Linked DNA regions of Homo sapiens. Each later gene encodes a partner of the first gene's protein in a complex. Each region holds a gene or a part of one and is shown in the gene's direction. Other genes may lie near its edges. The genes, in order: INHBA and FST.

Region 1 (8,598 bases):
TGGCTGGGTGGAGGGGCGGTGGGAACACTTTTTCAATCAATTCATCCCTATTGATTGAGACACTGTGTTTGTTTGGGGTTTCTTTTCTCCCCTCCAAAAAAGGAAGAAGGTGAAACCAGGAGACTGGGCAGAGAAAGAAAAAAAAATAGTGAACAAAATTAGGATAATTTATTTTAGAAGAGAAAGTAGAACCCCCGAAAATGGTGATATTTGAAGAGAGGTGTCTGTGAGGAAGCTAAGAGCAGAAGGAGAGCAGCCTGTCAGAAAACGGGCTGTCCCTCCCTCCCTAATCACAGCCCTACTCACAGCAAACTCCCTCCCTCTCCATTCACTCACTTACTTAGGGCCAATCCTTTCTCTCTCTCTCTCTCTCTCTCTCTCTCTCTCTCTCTTCCTTTCCCTCTCTCCCTCTCCCCCTCCCTTCCCTCCCTCTCTCCCTCTCTCTCCCCCTTCTTTCCCTCTCTCTTCTCTCCCCCTCTCTCCTCTCTCTCTGTCTCTGTCTCCCTCCCATCCTCTCTCTCTGTCTCTGTCTGTCTCCCCGCCACCCTGTCTCTCCCTCCCTCCCTGTCTCCCTCCCTCCCTCCCTCCTTCCTTCTCTCTTACTCGGAGACAGTCAGAACTCTCCTCCCTGACAGCCACAAACCTACAGCACTGACTGCATTCAGAGAGGAACCTGCAAACAAAACTTCACAGAAAACTTTTTGTTCTTGTTCCAGAGAATTTGCTGAAGAGGAGAAGGAAAAAAAAAACACCAAAAAAAAAAATAAAAAAATCCACACACACAAAAAAACCTGCGCGTGAGGGGGGAGGAAAAGCAGGGCCTTTTAAAAAGGCAATCACAACAACTTTTGCTGCCAGGATGCCCTTGCTTTGGCTGAGAGGATTTCTGTTGGCAAGTTGCTGGATTATAGTGAGGAGTTCCCCCACCCCAGGATCCGAGGGGCACAGCGCGGCCCCCGACTGTCCGTCCTGTGCGCTGGCCGCCCTCCCAAAGGATGTACCCAACTCTCAGCCAGAGATGGTGGAGGCCGTCAAGAAGCACATTTTAAACATGCTGCACTTGAAGAAGAGACCCGATGTCACCCAGCCGGTACCCAAGGCGGCGCTTCTGAACGCGATCAGAAAGCTTCATGTGGGCAAAGTCGGGGAGAACGGGTATGTGGAGATAGAGGATGACATTGGAAGGAGGGCAGAAATGAATGAACTTATGGAGCAGACCTCGGAGATCATCACGTTTGCCGAGTCAGGTTGGTGCTGGCATTGGCAGGGGGTGGGGAGGGGTGGGGGGTGGGAGGGTAAAATATATTTCTTTGACAGTCCCAGGAGGAACTTCTTTTCCCTTCAGCTGGAAACTGCCTGGGAAGGTTATTAGTTATTAGGTGATGGTAGCGGACTAGCCGACGGAGGGCAGGCAGGGGAGGGGGAGAGGACTTTACAGAAAAGGAATTCTCGGTCGAGCTCTGCCTGGAGATGACTGGCTTACACTTACTAAACCCAGCGGGTCACACAGAGAGGAAGCTCGGGGCCAATGTTGAGCTGGAAGGCAGACTGTGAGGGGCTGCCTTGCCCTGCCTGTGAAACCAGATCTGAGCAGCCGGAGGAAAGCCGCGGCATTTTCGGGTGCTAGGGGAGCAGAGGAGGCTTCCGGACCCCATCCAAGTTTTTATTGAGGGTAGAGGGGTGAATGTACCAGGATTGGAGTGGAATGGCACAGATGAAGTCACTCTCTTAAAACAAACCTTCCCCTTTAAAAGTCCAATCTGGGGCCACATTGGAGAAGCAGGGCATATTTATGAGTGACAGTCATTTTTACCTTTAGAAAATGTCTATAAGTGCACAGGCACCACATTCAAGACAGGGAAGAGCTACTTTGGGGGACAGTTGTCATTGAACCAGCAGTTACTTTTGGGACACTGACTTTTGCTCTCTGAAAGAAAAAAAAATAAATAAAACAACCAGTTTTGTTCTTTCTAAAGTTACTAAGAGCTCTCTGCCAAGGAACGCAACCTTGACAAAGTACTCTCAGATACTACGCTGAACTCACTCAATCCTTAAGAGGAAGAACTTTAATAAATAGATTCTAATCGTTGGCCCAGGACCACACTAACCTGTTGCTGAATAGCAATACCTGTCAAAAGTATGGGCCCATGGACTTGGAGCCAGGCTATTTTTATAGTTAAGTGACACAGATCCTTTGCATGCCTGCAAGCCCATGCACGTCAGGCACACAGATGTGTTAATACCGTGTTACTTTCATGGTAATGCCAGGCTAAAGAATTGCATCCTTTGCCAACTCCATTTGAAAGGAATGCCATTGTTTTGTTTGGTAGAGCATATGGCCAGTAAAGTATGTGCAGGGACTCCCAGCATTTTTGTTTAAAAGTTTGCCGCAGCAGTATAAACAATTAAGGCAACACTCAGAATTTCCAATCTGAAAACCTGTTGACTCAGATGTTCTGTTTTCAAGAAAACCATGAAAGACCAGGGCATCTTTCCGGGGGTGCAGATAGCCTGCTGGCTGTGTGGCTTCCCCTTGCAGGAGAAGCCCTGGTGTCCTACAAGCTTCCCAGTTTGGCTCTCTCACCAGAAGCCTCTCTCACTTAGGGAAGATCCTACTTTCTTTCCCTAAAGCTCTTTCTTAACCCAGCCCCAAAAGGCATGATCATTAGGACTTTATCTTCTGGAGCTTTTTGAGGAAGAAAGCTAGGTTGGAACTTTTCAAGTTGACACCCATTTTTTTTTCTCAACTTTTCATGGTGGGAAAAGGTAAAAAAGAAAATATTTACAATATTTGGCTGTGCATGTGAAACAGATTTCAGTGGTCTAGAGGGTTGCTTCCTGTCTTTGTATACCAACCTCCACACATGATGGATTCAATGACAGCTCGTATCCAGTTGCCTTTAACCATGTCATATGACTAAGTATACCTATGCCTTTGACCACTTTTAACCGCACTACCGTTACTAGCAATATGCCCCTCTTTCTGACTTACTGGACTTGTATAGCAAATCACTCTCTTAGCATTTAGAGATTTGGCAGTGAAAAAATTTGACCATTTACATTCTTTCTTATGTGTGGTCTTCCTTTCTGTGACAGTCTTCTCTCAGTTGTATGAGATCTTGTCATTTTTTTACTTCTCAGTTAGGTGTTTAGTTTGAAAAAAAATGAGCGACTTTTGAAAAAGCGATTCGTTGGACGTTCACATTGAGTCAAGTTTAAGATTTGTAATGGGAAACTCCTGGTTGACTTTACAACTTGACTTTGGATTCTTAGAAAACACTTATTACAATTGCTTATTTTTCTCTGAGGGATTTCACACATCAACTTCAAGTTGATTTAATGTAATTTCATGTATTTAATGATTGCTGTATGGACTGTCTACTCTTCAAGCAGAAAACCACGTGAGCATTTTGCTGCTGATTTTGCTAGTCCAGAAAAGACATTTATCATCCAAATGATTGTAGCAAATATATGAACATGAATAGAAAAGACCTATGTCTTGTTGCTTTTGGAATAATTCAACTTTAATAACATTCCAACTATGTGGAATGTCAAGAGTTTTTGGAGAATAGAAAAAGGAATGCATTTTTCTTTCCCTTATAACCATTTTGTGCAGCATAGAATCCAGACATTGTCACCCATGAGCATGCCACAGATGCAGACCCATAGCAGCCCCTTTCAACCTCAAGATTCTTCAATTTGAGGCTACGTTTAATTTTTGCCTTTTCTCTCCTTGATTGTTGGATAAAGCCAAGGCCTGGCTACAGAAGTAGAGAGCCTCCAAAAGCTGAAGTGCTGAGGACTCTTTTAACTGAGTTTGTCCCATCCTGTTTAGGTAGAAAGTGCTCAATTTTTGTAAAGTTGATGCGAGTTGTTATTGACTAAACAGCAGGGAATCACTCTAAGGCTCTCTGAAATGTATCCCAACAAACAAAAATTATTTTATTTTTATATATGTCACATCACCCAAGATTTCTCACCAAGGTTAGTGTGTTCTTTGCATGGCTGGCACAAAACCCTCAATGTTTTACCTTAAGGCCTACAGAGTTCTTCACAAGGAAAGATAGAAGGGATGGGTAAAGCCAAGCTATCACTATAAATGTCATGAAGCTAAATTCAGTGGCCTTTTCAGCTGATGCAGCTTATTTTTATTTTATTTTGACTCATGACAGTAGGTGGTCAATCAATGCATAATAATAATGTACCTCTAAGTCTCCATATGCTGTCAAACCTGGATGTGGGTTCTGGTAATTAGCTTAGCAATTGATAGCACTTGTTGTAGAAAGAATAGGGAAAGAAAGACAAATGACACACCAAGAAATGGATGTGCTCACGTAGCCTAGGTGTTGTTAAGCGCAACACATAAGTCTACCCCTTGGAGGATACTATGTATGGAAGATTTGAGTTAGAAGTTTGCACTGCCCAGACAGGGATCCAAGAAGCTTTGCTTGGATGACCATTTTCCCCACCCCAAGAAAGCCATCTCAAAATGAAGCTGACTCCCACCATTCCAATCCCACCTTCCGAACTTTTCTGTGAATCACCCCTCCTTTAGGGATGCCTTTAGGGGTTACACGCTCTCTTCCGTGAATAATGGGGAAGAGCGGCCACAAGAGGGCGCGTTCCAAAGACTTTTGCTCCTTGTCAGTGTATCCAGGGAAAGGCAGTTGCGCGTACTGGAAGCCCCTGTCTGTAGCGCCCTAATCTTGGTGATTATCAGTTACCGCCTGCTCCCTCTCATCCTGCAGAAAAAGTTAGGAATTTATGAGATGGGAGAAGCATGACTACCTGTAATACATTAAATGAGACAGAAGGAAAGGAAATGGAAATTCTAGTGATACATGTGAACATTCCGGAGCTCTATGGAAGGCAGACGAGTGATAAATTTCAAAAGCAAACAAAGCGGAGCAGGGAGAAATGTGACTATGAATCATCAGCGATACTGATTTGCTCACAAGTCTCTCCCTAATACGGTCTCCCGGGTCGTAACAAAAACATCTTCCATCTCCCCTGATTTTGTTGCCTAGTTTTCCTGCCTTATCAACAGTTTCCACCAGCGACAAATGACAAGTGACTTCAAACAGGGAGGAAAAAGGTTCTTTCTGTAATGCCTTGTGGGAACATGGTGTTCGGCTTCTGAGGATGCGTTTGTTTCCGAACTGAGGGTGTGGAGAGAAATGGTGGGAAAGATGGGAAAAGAGATTAATAGTGGTCTGCGGCCTGTGCAGTGGATGGACTGGGCTGGGGGTGGTGGAGATGCCAGGGTGGAAAGTCCGTTGTAATATTTAAAGAACTGCAGTAATACCTTCCCAGGCACTTTTCTTGAAAACACATATTTGTCTTGGCCCCTCTTCTGCTAAAAAATACTTGCACGTGATCTCCTAGCTGTAGTTCTGAATTCTTCGTACTCGACTGGTTCCTAAGTCCAAAATGAGAAGTGCCAAAGTTCTCAGGAACTTTGGAAGAAGTCTCTGAAATTTTGTGGGTTAAACCTTAAGAATTTTTGCTACTTGTAGGAACCTAAAACCCCTTTCTCCCAAAATATTTAACCTTTTTCATCACCACTTTAATGGAAGAGGCATGGATGATGGACGTTTGTGCCAGGGCATTTATAAATCAATAATGGACCCTAAGGAGGGAAATTAAAGCTAAAAAATTAATCAAGATAATTTATGGCCAAACCTATAGTTCTACTGCAGGAAAGATCCTCTACTGTAGGTCAAAGGAGGAATAACCTTAAGACCTCACTTGCTGCTTTCTGCAGAAACCCCTGGAAGCAGTCCAAATGCAAAGTTAGGGCTTCAGAGAATGCACCCTGTAAATGGTAGTTGTGTATACCCTTACCATTGACTATACCATATCTAGGCACAGTGAAATCTTGATGAAGAATGGAAAATTAAAGGAACAGACGCTTTTTACAGGGAGGCTTCCCCCAGCCCCCATCCCATGGTAAGTTTAAATGTGTTCTATAAACAACGAGGCTTTCCACATTCACATTAGAGACATAACTATTGCCCATATGTAAAAGAGCAACATATTTTAAGCAGGACCCTGGTGAGGAAAACAAAACCAAATCGAAACACTGCATGTGTGTGTTGCTTATTTAACTGAAAATGTTCATAGACCCACAAATCTGAGATGCTGGACTTTTGGATGAGTCCAGCATTTTGCATCTTAGTGTAGGGGGAGGGAACAACAAGGGGCTTAGTTGCTTAACCCTTGCCATGCCTTCATGATTGACTTATTCAAAACATTTTTAAAATTCTGAAAGCAAAGGAAAATGTGCTGCAAACACCCTTCCAGCTATCTTTCCTTCCAGCTTACACAGTCTCTCCTCTGTCCAATCCTTCCCACCCAGCAGCATTTCAGAGGTATTCCCTGTGAGGTACAAAATTTCTCTTTGCCCATTTTTCTGCACCTCTTTTTCTCTCTCTTTGGTATGTGTCCACCAAGCTCATAGAGGTTTAAGTGATGAAATATTATCACCCACATGGGTTTGCGTGGGACTTTCTTAGTGAATTACTCAGGCAGAGCAGGCTGTGATACAGCCTTGCTCACAAGCCTCGGGAGGGAAAAAATAGCACAGAGGATGAAAAGAATATTATTAGAGAGCAGGTAATGAAAGGTTCGCAAAGCAACCAGCTATATCTGGTTAGCTAGGTAATAGTGCAGGAACCTAGGTCGCACCTGTACAAACTAATGCAGAACCTGCTCACGGCGCACTATGGGAAGACATTCATTTCAAGAGTTTACAGCATGAGATATTTGAGTAAAACCTGAAACTGATTAGAAATTGATCCTGAACATCCCAGCCTTAGTCAACCTTCCCTTTTTCAAATTGTTATGCATGGAGATTGGAGGATTGGGGCATCTTGAAAGTGTCACTGCAGTATAGCAATCTCTCTCAGGTAATATAGAGATAAAGGGAATATAATAAATTGACCTGTTATTTATTATCTTTTTCATACCTAGGACATTCCGAGGCTTAATATATTTCTGAAGCCTACAGCCCTGATAAACATCAATCCCACGTCAGTTTCCAGCAGTCTCATCTCCCCACACCCTTCTGCAATGAAAGCTAATGTAAAAGAAAGAAATATGCACTGCTTAATAAGTCAGAATACAATAGAACTTGTAAAATGTACCTGCATATAAGGTAGACATTAGGAAGACTTGAATCTCTCTCTTCCCCCTGTTCTCCTGAGCATTATGGCAACAGCATTTTCATGAAATTAGATCTGTTTTATATTTTTTCCTGATAAAATATCATGCAATATACAAATAGCAGTTCCAGAAATGGACACCAGGAGAAGGAGGCGACAGGCATGTCAATTAGTAGGGGGAAAATCCAAATGTCAGAAATATGGGGGAGAGAGAAAGCACGCAGGCAGTGGATGCAAATACAGGGAACAGAGTCTTTCAATTCAGATAATTAAACGGATGCATAAATCAGCACCCTTGCCTCTCTACAATACGCAGGCGATGCCATGCAGTTAATTATCAGCCAAGACCAGCATGAAAGTCATTTTATGATGACTCTCTGATCCTAATATAACAGCACCTGACAGATTGAGCCCCCTCTAATGAGTACTCTCTTTGTACAATCCTCTCTCAGGAACACTAAATCATTTGCTTCCAAGTACAGCTGCCTGTGAAGAAGGGGTGGGGCTAGATCATGCATCAGAAACCTGCTCTTGTGAAATCAGGGGCTGTCCTGTAGGCTGTGTGACTGGAAGCCAGCAGCCTCAGCCTCTCTGGCCCTAAAAAAGCAATTTGCACACGGCTGTCCCTAATTCTAGTCAGCCAAGTAACCCTCCCTCGGCACCCCCACCTAAACATCTGTAGTCAGCCTTGGGTGTTATTCATGGAAAGTCCACTGCATGCGGGTCAGCACTGCTGTCCATCGGCTTCACCCTGACCCCTTCTGGCAGGTGTGGATGAGAGTAGAGCAGAGCTCATGGGGATGAGTTACCCCAAACCTATTAAGCCTCCCTATCCGGGGCACTAGTCAGACACTCCAGTTTTACACTCTTTCCTAGAAAAACAAAACCCAACCTTGTGCCCTCTGGGTTCTCTAATTTAGCAGCTACTATCTGTCTGTTTTTGGAGTGACACCCTGTGCAGTTTAGGATTTCAGAAGCTGTCCTGCATAGAGGCAGAAGGGAAAACAGCAGGTATCTTGTTAACATTCTCTATGGGGCAAGGCAGATGTGCCCAAGCTGGAGGAAACCTGCACACCCTCCAGGCTAGTTATCCAAGGCTTGGGAGGTTTCCCTCGGCCTTCTCCTAAGGCCTTGGCAGGACCCTGCCACCCTAAAATCAACTGCTGATTGCCTTTTTAGATTTAAATGATTAAGCTCTGCTTATGGGAATCTTCTTCTCTTTTATTTTGTTAAGAAACAAACAACAACAACAAAACCCACACCAATTCTTAGCAAAGGGGAATATCGAATTCAGATTTTGAAAAAATAAGTCATCATGCTTCCTAAAATAAGACAGCTTCTCCCTCTAACTGCTCTCTCTGCTCTGGTATTCTATCTAATCATAAACCCAGCTTTATTATTCATTTCAACTCCTGCCAAAGACATGAGGTCGGAG
Region 2 (11,953 bases), on another chromosome or scaffold:
CAATCAACAGAATCTATCAATTCTACCTGATAATTATATCTTGAAGGTAACCCTTTTACCACCTTTAATGCCTTCCCATTTATTTCCACAGTTCAAGTGGGGAGAGAGTTTCTAAGTGAAAAGGGACCTATGCCACCTTCTACTTACAATATTCCCATGGATTTCCTCTGGAATACCAGTAAGCCCAAGATTTTACAAGAGCTTATATAATCTAGACCATCCACTTATTCATTTTCCTCAATTTCCACTCTCCTTCTCAAACTCTGTGCTTTGGTCATTACTAAACTACTTTTGGTTCCTCATATGATTCCTTTCTTGCCTCCTGGGCTTTGCAAATACTCTTCCATCTCTCCACAAGCACTGCCTTCTCCTGGCTAACCCCTCCTCAACCAAAAATTACAGCTAAAGGTCACTTCATCAAGAAGGCTTTCCTTGACCCTCTTCCTCATAATGTATTGAATAGTACTTACTTATTTAATATCTGCCTTCTCTTTCATCCTAAAATCTCCAAGAAAGCCACAACTAGATTAGTCTTGTTTGCTTCTCTATCTTCATCAGAGAATTTAGAAAATGTAATTGATTTTTTATGCTTGCATGTTTTATGTTCTTCAGCTTTAGTTTTTATGAATAACAGTAGAAAAAACATTATCTTTAAAAGTATCTTAGGTTGCTTAGAATATGGGAGTAATTACAGATCTGTTTCTTTTTCTCATTAATCCTTGGGAAGCCTAAATTACAATCACTTCCTAGAAGCTAGGCAGTAAAGTACTTCTGACTCAGCCTTGCCCTATTGTTTTTTGGAGGGATCTAGGAAGTGGTGATAATAACACTTACCTGGCAGAGCAGTTAAAAAAAATAGAGATGACGTATTTCATATGTCTAGCATGGAATGGGCACTAAAACATGGTAGCTATTATTAAAGAATAAAATAATAGATATATGCATGGATTTCAGAGTGCCTGTGACCTCCTTAAAATGAATGCAACATTTTGTGTGGCTGTGTATGTGTTTGTGTCTGTCTGCTATTCTGGGGAGATGGTCCATATCTTTCAATAGCTTCTCAAGGGGACTGGGAACAAGAAAAAGTTAAGAATACTGCCTAATGGTTTTATTCAGGAAATCTGGTGCTCTGGCAAAAATGAAAATGTTGACAGTGTGATTGTTGTGTCATCTGGCTGGCCAAAGCAATGTTTTCTGCTAAAGCAAAAATTAGAAGTATTGGGGCCAAAATGATCTCAACTAAATGGTTCTTCTACACTATGTTTCCATCTGCCCAGCATGTGAGCCATTAACACATGTTTCCTGTTGACGATTTTCATATCTTTATTTGCAAGGAAACTGCACTGAGACCAGTTCAAGAGAATCATTTATTTAATGTATTGAAAAACCAAATAAATGAACTTCCTGTATATATACTCATGATTTTATATTGCTAAAAAGTGACTATTTATGGGACATTAAGCACACATTGACCAAGACTGCCTTTAAGTAATTCATCTAGTAGTTCTCATTATACATGTGTGTGTATATATATGTTTAGTCCAAAAAATAGCAAGTCTCACCATGTGTTGAAATAATTTATTTCAACACTTAATGCATCACCTGTCCCGTATTTCCACATGTTGTGTCATCACCATTTGACCTCAACCCATTGTTAAATATTTAATAGTACTGTTGGATAAACGATACAAAGTATTGTTTACTTTTGAATGTGGCATTTACATGAAAAACCAAATAAGCCAATACATGCTACAAAAGGTACAAGTTTAGGGTATAGCACTAGCCCTTCTGGTGGATGCAAAACGAGATATAAGGGGAAAGTAAACTACAGAGAGGATGAATGGGTCAGGGAGAGCAATAACAACAGAAAAGATGCCATAACTCTCCAATAAAGAATAAAGGCAGAAAGTAACTGCCACCCAAATGTTGGCATAATGGAAACTGCATGTTTCCATCTCTCAGAACTTAAACACAATAATGGATAGTTTTGAGGAGGAGTCTATTTGCATGAACATGATGAAATAATACTCAACAAAACACTAACTAATAGAGAATTATTCTTAACACTCACTGAGTGTAAATCTCATGGTGATGAAGATTATTCATTTAAAGGAGTGACTATGGTCTAAAAGAAACACCAAAAGAGTGCATGCCAGAGATTTTGATGAGTCAGCACACCACTCCTGGTAAGTGTGCTCAATACACTCTTTTTGACTGACCATAGACAATCAGCTTGGGGAAGTCTGAAAACAAGTATCAGCCTACACCAGGAAATCTTTATAACCTATTGAGGTCCTTTGAGACACAGAGCTTAAAATGACATATAATATCCTACTTCAGCATGTTTTTCAATGACAGCCAAAATAAAAAAACACACACACACACTACAGTTGAGAGAAGCTAAAGAAGAGTTATGTAAATACAAAGACATACCATGTTATTGGTTTTGAAGACTCAATATTGTTAAAATGTCATTCTCACCAAATTGATCTACCCTAATCATAATCCCATCGAGCTTTTTTTGCAAAATCAACAAACAGATTCTAAAAGTTATATAAAAATACAAGTAGGATATTCAAAGTGATCTTGAAAAAAAAGAAAAAGTTGTAGGAATTACACTACCTGTCTTCATGACTTACTATAAAGTCACATTAATCATGATAGTGTGGTACCAGCATAGAATCAACAAATAGATCAACGGAACATAAGAGAGAGCCCAGAAATAGATACACACTTACGAAGCTCTTTGATTTTTTACAAAGGTGCAAAGGAAAAGTGCAAAATTGATTTGGAATGAATTCCCCGTTGAGGAACAATGACTGTCTTAGCTCATGCTGCTGCTATAACAAAATATCTTAGATTTGATAATTTTATAAACAACAGAAATATATTGCTCATGATTCTGGAGGCTAGGAAGTCCAAGATCAAGGTGCCAGCAGATTCAGTGTATGGTAAGACTCACTCTCTGCTTCCAAGACTAACTGAAAATTCTACAAGATGATGAAATAGGATATTCAAAATCATGTTCTACTAACTTGTAAAATTTGAATTTACTGTAAACATAATTGAGGATAGCAAAGATCACCTGGTGACTATCAAGCAGGCCATCCAGAGACAAAATTCCTTATCTGAGGGATTCAGAAGTAATTCGACTTTCCCATTATCTAAACCAGGCATATGGTTCCAGGTTTCCCTCCCAAAAATTTGTTAAGTAACTTGTATGCATATTGAAACTCATTGTGCAACCCTTGCTGACATTAAGGCACCAAGGTATCTACAAACGTTATTGTTTAACATGACCTACATGGCTAATGTGGTCCAAATTACTCTTAAGCTCCTGCTTTAAGGTCCATAAATACCCCTAAGGAAAAATCTACCAAAACACTCTGGGTCCTCTCTTGCTGAGAGGCTCTGCTGCACTTCTTCTGCAGCATTCTTTCTTTCTAATAAAACTATCCTTTTTCAAACCTACACTGTCATCAGTAAATTCTTCTTACCAACCCACAGGTTGACCACTTTTCAATGCCAGGCCTCTGACATCTCGCCTGGCAACAGTATCTCACTTCTTAATTTACCATTCAGCATCAGAAATGAGACAGGATTCATGTCAAATTAAAAAGTGGGGTGACAATATGATGGATGATCAAACAGCAATTGTATCAACTACTGATGGTAATATTAAATAGGCAAATACCTAGAGAAGAACTAGTTATTAAGTGTGCAAACCACTGCTACTCTATGGAAAGCTAAAATAAGGGACCAGAAAATAAAACATACCAAAGTAACTACAGCATGCTACTCACCTTCAGCCAATGAATAATCCAGGAAGGTGGCTCTTACTTTGATTGACACGTTGTTTCCAACATAAAGTAGGGGAAACTGAACAGCAAATCCTAGTTTGCCCTCCTCACACCTTCTATGCAGTTGAAAGTGTAAATGGAATCAGGGTTAAAAGTGCTAAAGGTCACACACAGATATTTTCAGTCATATCCAAATATATGAATCATTTATGTTGTCAAAGCGACCTAAAATACTTTAGAATTTTCTATTAATCCAATGTAACATCCCCATTCTAAGGCATAATTTGAATTATTTACTAAGATTTATTTTAACTACTTAATTATGTTGAACTTGAATATATTAATATGGCTAGTTTAAGTGACTATGTGACAACTAGCTTAGCTGACTTCTGGAAACCCAAAAATATTTCTAAAATTAAAGGGGAAAGCAAGGCAATAAAAATGTTACACAGAAACAAGTAGTATCAAAAAGGAAGAGCTATCCATGATTGATCAGCTCTGTATAACACCAAAGCAACACTGAAAAGAGAAAAGTTCAAGTAATCCGTTGTTTTCTCAGTTATATATATATATATATATATATATTACATAAAACATATTTTTCTAATGATTTTTTAAAACCTTAATTGACCGGTAGTTTGGATATCTTGGGTAAACATTGCTTCTACGTACTCACATTTCTTAACTTTTTAGTTCTGTAATGATTCAACCAATACAGAACTACTGCCCCCATCCCCCTACTCAAATCCTTATGCTAGCCTATGAAGTTGCATAATGCCAAAGACTATGACACATTAAGTAACTGTTTTGTACCTAGAATAAAATCTGATTTTAAAATCATTTTAGCCTATTTTTCAAATGCTTAACTTTTGTTGTTTAATCAAGATTGATTATTTGCACTTGAAAATGTATTCATTTTGCAAAACACCTAACTTCAAAAAAAGCTTGACATTTAATCTTAAGGCAAAAAAAAAAAAAAAGCTACTCAGTTCATGACTTTCAAATAGTCTCTACATAACCTCACCCCACTCCCTCCATATTCTCTTTTTAGGTACTGAAATTTAACCAGGTCAGTTCTGGTCTCAAATAACAATGTCATATGAGTTTAAATAGCTATCTAGGGAGTTAGATTGAATCATTTGCTAAACTCTAATATTTTAAATTTATAAACTTCAGAAGGAAGACAGCTTTTGAAGCTGACAAAAGACCAATCAGAAAACAGTAGTCTTTTTGTGTGCTGCCCAGAAATTCAGCTACAAAGTGGTCCTATTGTGTTTCTCATAATTTACATTTTTATTTGGCAGAGCAGAAAGGAAAAATAAGAAGTCAAACTTGGAGGCATACAACAAAAATGAAAGGCGACATTTTTATTTTAAAATGTCCCCTTGACATTTAGATATCTACAAACCCAATATTTAACATTTACAGGCGATATAACAGTAAAAGAAATAGCAGCTGTTTTTCTGTGATGTCACTGAACAGGTGTGGTACCATTTCATACCACAGAAATGGGATGGATCTCTTGCTGATGCCCACAGAAAGCCTATAAGGAACCAGTATTGACCTGTGTCTCATTTCCTCAGTTATGATCTGAAAATAACCCTAGATGGCAAGAGTCATGGTGACTGATCTGTGCTGATTTGGAGCAGACATTCTCCCAAACAGATCAATACTATCCAAGGTGCAGCTGAAAAACAGGATGAGCTTGTATCACTAAACAAACACCAAGCTGCTTATTCAAAAGGGCAAAAGCAACACAGCACTTATGTTTTCCACAGTGTGTTTGCCAGTGACCTCAACCCTGACCTGCAGGGTCACCTTCTCTGGGACGAGAAGTAATCCTGTGTTGGGTCACCCTCTGGTACTGAGGGACTCCTATTTGTGGTGCCATTTTTTACAATGAGAGCTACTGTGTCTGCTTTGGCTTAGCCAAGACAATTACATGATGCCAAAACAACTAGTCAAGGCAGTCAATTTAGTCAAATGACTGGTCTGAGCATTTGGCATTACATAGACAAAAAATGAAATAGAAATGAAATTTTTACTTTTACCCAATCATACTGGAATTGTGAGGATACAACTTAAATTAATTTAGAAAGTTTTTGTGACATCAGTTGTTTCTATATACATAAACTAAAATAAGTATCTGGACAAACTAAATAGTTTTGCTCAAACATGGAAAATTTTTTGACTAGCCCCTCCAAATTGCTTCTATTCTAATCTTCATTTAGCTACACAGACCTTCCCCCAAAAAGGTAATCTTTGTGTATACTTGTATGACCCTTTTACATCAACATGTTATATGTACATATAGGAATGAACAAAATTAAAATCTAATAAGAACATACAAGTTATATCACTATTCTCCTTGCTATACGGTTATAAAATATGATGAGATTATGAACTTTAAAACAATCTTCCCAAAGATATTGAGAAAATAAATATGGATTAAAACGTGATTCTATATTTCTCCAGGCAAGATGACTTCATATACAACTAGGCATATAAGTAAAATTTAAATATTTTGTATAGTCCTAGGGTGGAAAGTCTAAGAAAAAGACCCCAGTTTCCAGAGGCTACTGGCCAATTCAGGACCAATAAATATATTTAAACTGGAGACAAATATAAAATCATGTAATTATGTATGATCATTGATAGCATTGCTGTAAGATCCAGTTACTTACCATCTGAGATCTTTTATGCATTTGGAATGTTTATTTTTCAACCTTGGATATACGGTTTGATACCTCTACCTTAAAAAGAAGCTGTGTCTCTTGCTGCCATTAAAAGACAGGGTAGGGGGAAAAGTCAAGTAACAATACTTGTTAGCTTCTCTTTCCTTTAACTTATCCCTGGGCAGGGGTGGGGGAACCTTTAAGCAGAGAAAACAAACTTTCCCTCCAGCACATCATTGTATAAGGACTATACCATTTCTCTGAATAAAGAAGAAATAAATTCAGCTTTGGAACTCTGCCATTGAGTGGCGGCTCCTGCAAAGGGGACAGTTTGCTATTAATTGTTAATGTCGTCTGCCATTAGAGGGCACTAAACAACTCTACATTAATGAGTTGGAGGGAAGAGAGAAAAGGAGACTGGAAAAGAAAGAGAGGGAGAAAAGGGAGGGAGAGTACGGGTAGAGTCTGGGTAGAGGGAGGGAAGGAGAGAAGAGGGGAAGGAGTAGGGGAAAGAGAGCAGAGGGAATGAGTTGGAGGACTGGAGGGAAAGGGAGAAGGGGAGAGAGACAGCGAGACAGAAACAGACAGAATGATTCTGGAAAGATTAAGAAGGATGTGGAGCCCCCACAGCCGTCTGAAGTGAGCAAAATCCAGTCTCCCCCGGGCCGCCCGAGCCCCTCCCCTCCCGTCCTCATGACGGTAATTATAAAGCGAAAAGCGGCGGCGAGGTCACCCGCTTTTACCAGCCTGCTGCACCGAATGCGCGCGGTGCAGGTGCGGCGGCCGCGGGGCTTTGTGATTCATGCCCACTTTCAAAGGGGGGCTTGGGCCCGTCTGAGAGGCACCCAAACAACTGTCTTCTAATATTAGCACGGCTGTATTTCGGGATCTATTATAGTCTGTCCAGACAGATCCCATTGTAATGGGATCTTTTATTAAAAGATTAGCACTATCTCCTGCAGTTGGTGGAAAAAAATCTGTTATCACTGAGTTATTTGCAGTTGTGGAGGGGGGAAGGTTGACGGAAGATGGGGGGTGGGAGGGCTAGAGGAGGACTGGGGGAGGGTCTGGCGGGGGGAGGGCAGTTGCAGGGGGGGAAGAAGGGCAGATTTGAAATTCGTAGAACAAATCCCAGTGACCTGCGAATGTCCAAGAATTTTGTCTGCATACTTCGCTATCTGTTGTCCTTCGGGCTTCAGATGCGAAAAGAACAAATTTAAAAGGCAGCTTTGGAATAAACAATATAGCATTTTCCGTGAAGTAATCGTTTTATATAAAAGGAAATATCGCCTCCTCAGTTTCATTCAGCGGTGCCAAAAATGTTATAAATGAGAGACCCGCCAACTTTCAGCGAAGAATGCCAGGCACTGTACTTAATAAACTGAGGCTACAGAAGTTCATTATGGATGTTGCAATCTTTTTTATTCCGCGAAAAGAGAGAAGACGAGACAGAAAGAGAGAGAGATTGGAGCCGAGGAGACTGAGAGACAGACAGAGGCACACAGGACAGAAACTGGGGAGTCTCCAGGCGGGAGAGGAAGGGGGGGCCAGACCGCCTACGTCGGCGCCCCCGCTCCGGGCTCCGACTCCAGACGCCGCGAAGTGAAAGGGGAGAAAAGAAAGGGAGAGGGCGAGGCTGTGCCGCGGGGAGACCGGGCCTGAGGTGTTAAACATTTTTGTTTGCTTCCGACTAGTCCAGACGAAGGGCCGCGTCTCGGTAGCGCTCTGCCAGGGTGGAAGGTGCCGGGGCCGGGGTTCCTAGCAACACCTCTGGGCTGGGGGTGGCTGCAAAGTCAGGCACTCACAGACCCAGACACAAAACCTCGCGGGTCCCGCGCCCAGGCTGCGGGTGCCCGGAACCGCCGCGAGGCCGGCGCGCTCCGACCCGACCCGGGGCGGGATATTTGGGCAGCCCGGGGCTCTTCGGCCGTTTGCAAAAGTCTCTTTGGAGCGGAGGAGAGGCAGCACGGAGACAAACTCCCGGGTTCCCCCCGCCACCGCCTCCAGCGCCCCCACCGCGCCCTCCCTCTCACACTCGCGCGCGCGCGCACACACACTCACACACACACTCACACACACACCCGCCACCCCGGGCGCGCCGGCGCTGCCGGCGAGCGGCGGCGAGCAGGACTTGAAGTGGGTGTTCTTCCCCACTCCCCACCCCCGACGCGTAGCCCCCAACCCCCGCCCCGGTCGCCTTCCCCCTCCCTCTCGCTCCTACGCAAATAAGAACTCGACGATTCCCTTCCAGCCGTTTTGATTTCGGGCACCTCCGAAAGATAATTGGGAAGGGTTTCCAGAAGGTGGGAAATGTCACCTGATTCACACTGAACTTTTGAAAGCTCCCCACCCCCAAGGAGCCGCGCACACCCTCGCTCGCGGCCGCCCTCCCACAGCCCCACACACTGGGAGACCGCCCACCGCAAACCGCGGAGACCCCCGTCTAGATTTAAAGCGCGGCTGCGCCCGGCTTCTGACGTCCATTGAATCGCGCGGGCGGCCGGCGGCGAGCGCGGGGCTGCGCCGGGATCGCTGCGCCCTCCGCCGCTGGCCTCTGCGACGCGCGCCGCTCGCCCGAGCCACCCGCCGCCGCGCCGGCTCCCCGCGCCGCTGCGCTCCTCGCCCCGCGCCTGCCCCCAGGATGGTCCGCGCGAGGCACCAGCCGGGTGGGCTTTGCCTCCTGCTGCTGCTGCTCTGCCAGTTCATGGAGGACCGCAGTGCCCAGGGTAAGCGAGTGGGGATGCGCTGGGGAGGCTTGGCTGAGGACAGGGGGGTCGACTTTTCTGTGGTCTCCACTTGGTCTGTTCTGAGCAACGCTGCTCTCGGAAGATGTTGAACCAACTTGGGGACTCCGGGATGGAGAGGAGTGGGAAAATTGTAGGCAATGACACTTTAGGACTGGGAACTGAGTTTGGAGCTCGGTTATCTTGAAAAAGGAAAGGGAGCGAGCTGGGGTCTTAGTAGTTAGGGTTAAATGCTCCAAGTTCTGGCCATGATAACTTTAGATGTGATCTCCTCTGTTTGGCTCTGAAGAAGGGAACAAGTATCAGTAGTAGCCTGGAGATTTCAGTCGACCCATTTGCAGTCTCATCTCTCTCCCTCCCACATCTTTTGGATACTTAAAAAAAAAAAAGGAAAGAAAGAAAAGAAAACCTGGGGGTTTGGGGGAGAGATACTGAATTTTATTTGGTGGCTGGGGGACGTGGTTTCAGAAACTTTGCCCAAACTTGGAAATGTGGGTGCTGAAGATTTTCAAGGGAAGTAGCTTTCTGCCTAGTGGATGCTTCTTCCAACCCCATCCCCCATTCTCGCAAAAAAAAAAAAAAAAAAAAAAAAGCCAAATTATTACCCCAAAGTGCTTTGAGCACTTTACAGTTTTTTTCCCCTCTGCCTCATTCTTCTTTCTGACCCTTAGCTTTCTGTAAAACAGTGAGCAGCCCATAACTGACTTAAATTCTGAAATGGGTTAAGAGCAAATTTCTGAAGCTTGCCTTTTAAAAATAGATTTGTTTATTTCAATTAGTCTTTGGGCAGAATGTTTAAAATAATAATAGCAGCTTGCGATCCAATGATTGTTAAAGTCATATTGGTGATTCATGAGAAGTCTTCTCGACCCAAATCCGAACATTAAAAAGGGGGAAGAGGGAGAAATCACTTGCAAATATTTCTTGCTAGGTATGAGATAGGTACTTATAACCGTGAAATGGTAGGAAGACTCCCCCCTCCCCCCACCTTAAGGCATTACTTTCCCTGCTTCAGCGTTAACATTTTAAGTATGTTGTAAACTGCCCTCCTGGGCACTGCCCCTCGCCGTCTGCATGGCACTGCGCTGGGTTGCCCGCCTTTAGAGGAGAGGCTCTGCCTGGTGCCCGGACGTGGGCGCGGAGGAAAGCAGCCCTCGGAGATTTCGAAAGATCGCGGTGGCCGCGGGCGTGCTCCGGTCTGGCGGATTGCAAAACGGGCCCGTCGGGCTGGCTGCGCCTGGAGGCCGCGCGGGGTAGCTCCGGGCTGGGCCGGGTTGCTTTTTTGCTTTCATTTTTCAGAAGTGCCTTTTGCTTGATCTGTTTCTCTCTCTCTCTCTTTCTTTTCTTTCTTCCTCTCTCTCTTTCTTTCTTCCTTTTTTTCTTTCTTTCTCTTTCTTTTCTTTCTTTCTCTTCTTTCTTTTCTTTCTTTCTTTCTCTTTCCTTCTCCCTCTCTCTCCCCTCCATCTCTCCTCTCTCCTCTCTCTCGTTCTCTTACTTTCTTAACCCCTGTCACAAATAATTCCTGTACCCGCCTACATGAAACCAGCATGTAAAAACATCCGTCGCATCCTGTTTTTGTCAGGTTCTTTAATCTGCTCTTCGAGTCTCTGCAGGTTATGAAATGGGACGAATAAAAGTAAACAGTCTAGTAAAAGTCAATGCAAGCTGCACGTGTTGTGTCTGGGTCACTGGTAACTGACATTGATATGGCTGGGGCGCCCTGTCTTCTCCCTCTCTCCCTCCCTCCCTCTCGCCCACCTCCCATCTCTGTGATCAGGGCTTCCCCCTCCACTGCCTTCTTTTTCCACCCCTCCACCCCTTTCGATTTATTTCCTACTTTTCTCCCGCGTCTCTCTCACTTCCCCTCCTCCACGCTCACCCCCTCCCCATCCCCGCCGGGTCTCCTTCGCTAGCCACCTCGCTCTCCCTGCCCTGCCACCGCTCACTGCTCACTCACCCACCTCCCCACCCTTGTCTCTTCACAGCTGGGAACTGCTGGCTCCGTCAAGCGAAGAACGGCCGCTGCCAGGTCCTGTACAAGACCGAACTGAGCAAGGAGGAGTGCTGCAGCACCGGCCGGCTGAGCACCTCGTGGACCGAGGAGGACGTGAATGACAACACACTCTTCAAGTGGATGATTTTCAACGGGGGCGCCCCCAACTGCATCCCCTGTAAAGGTAGGACTCCTTCTTCCCAACTTGCAGGCCCTCAGTAGAGGGCGTCTTACCCTTAGCTTCCCCACTACCTGACTGGGGTTTGGGAGTAGGAGAGCTTTGTTCCTGGGCTTCCCCTTCCTGTCCCTTGCCCTGGTAAGCCGTGCAGACTCTAATTCTGCCTGTTACAGGCTGTAGGGAATACACGCCAGACTTCTTAGCCAAGTGTGGTGGTGAAACCCACCAACCTGTGCTCCTTAATGAGAGAGATCTGGGTGTGGGGCACAGCCCAAGGTCCACACTCTTTCACCAACTCCCAATATTCCAGGAGAGAGCCTGGGGCCCCTCCAGCGCAAACTCAGGGCTGCATGATTGCGCAAGGCACCCGAAGCCCTCCTGGCTGACCTGCAGACTGCCTGGCTCTGGTTTTAATCCATGCCTGTTTCTAACTCACAGAAACGTGTGAGAACGTGGACTGTGGACCTGGGAAAAAATGCCGAATGAACAAGAAGAACAAACCCCGCTGCGTCTGCGCCCCGGATTGTTCCAACATCACCTGGAAGGGTCCAGTCTGCGGGCTG

What was found.
Region 2: the proteins of INHBA (region 1) and FST are in contact, whole or in part, in a crystal structure (PDB 2P6A), measured with the Homo sapiens proteins. Residues at the interface, in NP_002183.1 of Homo sapiens: Asp315, Phe327, Asp337, Trp338, Ile340, Ala341, Gly344, Tyr345, His346, Gly360, Thr361, Gly363, Phe368, Thr371, Arg397, Ser400, Leu402, Tyr404, Asp405, Asp406, Gly407, Gln408, Asn409, Ile410, Ile411, Lys412; in NP_037541.1 of Homo sapiens: Trp33 (codon at 11,216), Arg35 (codon at 11,222), Val44 (codon at 11,249), Leu45 (codon at 11,252), Arg60 (codon at 11,297), Phe76 (codon at 11,345), Met79 (codon at 11,354), Asp135, Glu152, Pro154, Glu155, Val180, Val181, Asp182, Gln183, Tyr188, Val190, Arg221, Thr224, Cys225, Arg229, Ser230, Ile231, Gly232, Leu233, Glu328.

What each region holds. Positions count from the first base shown.
Region 1 is NC_000007.14:41,692,636-41,701,233, reverse strand, and holds part of INHBA (inhibin beta A chain preproprotein), read left to right. Parts: intron 1-716; 5' UTR 717-859; coding exon 860-1,247; intron 1,248-7,145; exon of another isoform or gene 7,146-7,315; intron 7,316-8,598. UniProt on the Homo sapiens protein: Inhibins/activins are involved in regulating a number of diverse functions such as hypothalamic and pituitary hormone secretion, gonadal hormone secretion, germ cell development and maturation, erythroid differentiation, insulin secretion, nerve cell survival, embryonic axial development or bone growth, depending on their subunit composition.
Region 2 is NC_000005.10:53,471,676-53,483,628, forward strand, and holds the start of FST (follistatin isoform FST344 precursor), read left to right. Parts: upstream 1-8,953; 5' UTR 8,954-9,116; coding exon 9,117-9,201; intron 9,202-10,656; exon of another isoform or gene 10,657-10,840; coding exon of another isoform or gene 10,841-10,910; intron 10,911-11,204; coding exon 11,205-11,396; intron 11,397-11,828; coding exon 11,829-11,953. UniProt on the Homo sapiens protein: Multifunctional regulatory protein whose primary function is to antagonize members of the transforming growth factor beta (TGF-beta) superfamily including activin, myostatin, GDF11 or bone morphogenetic proteins (BMPs).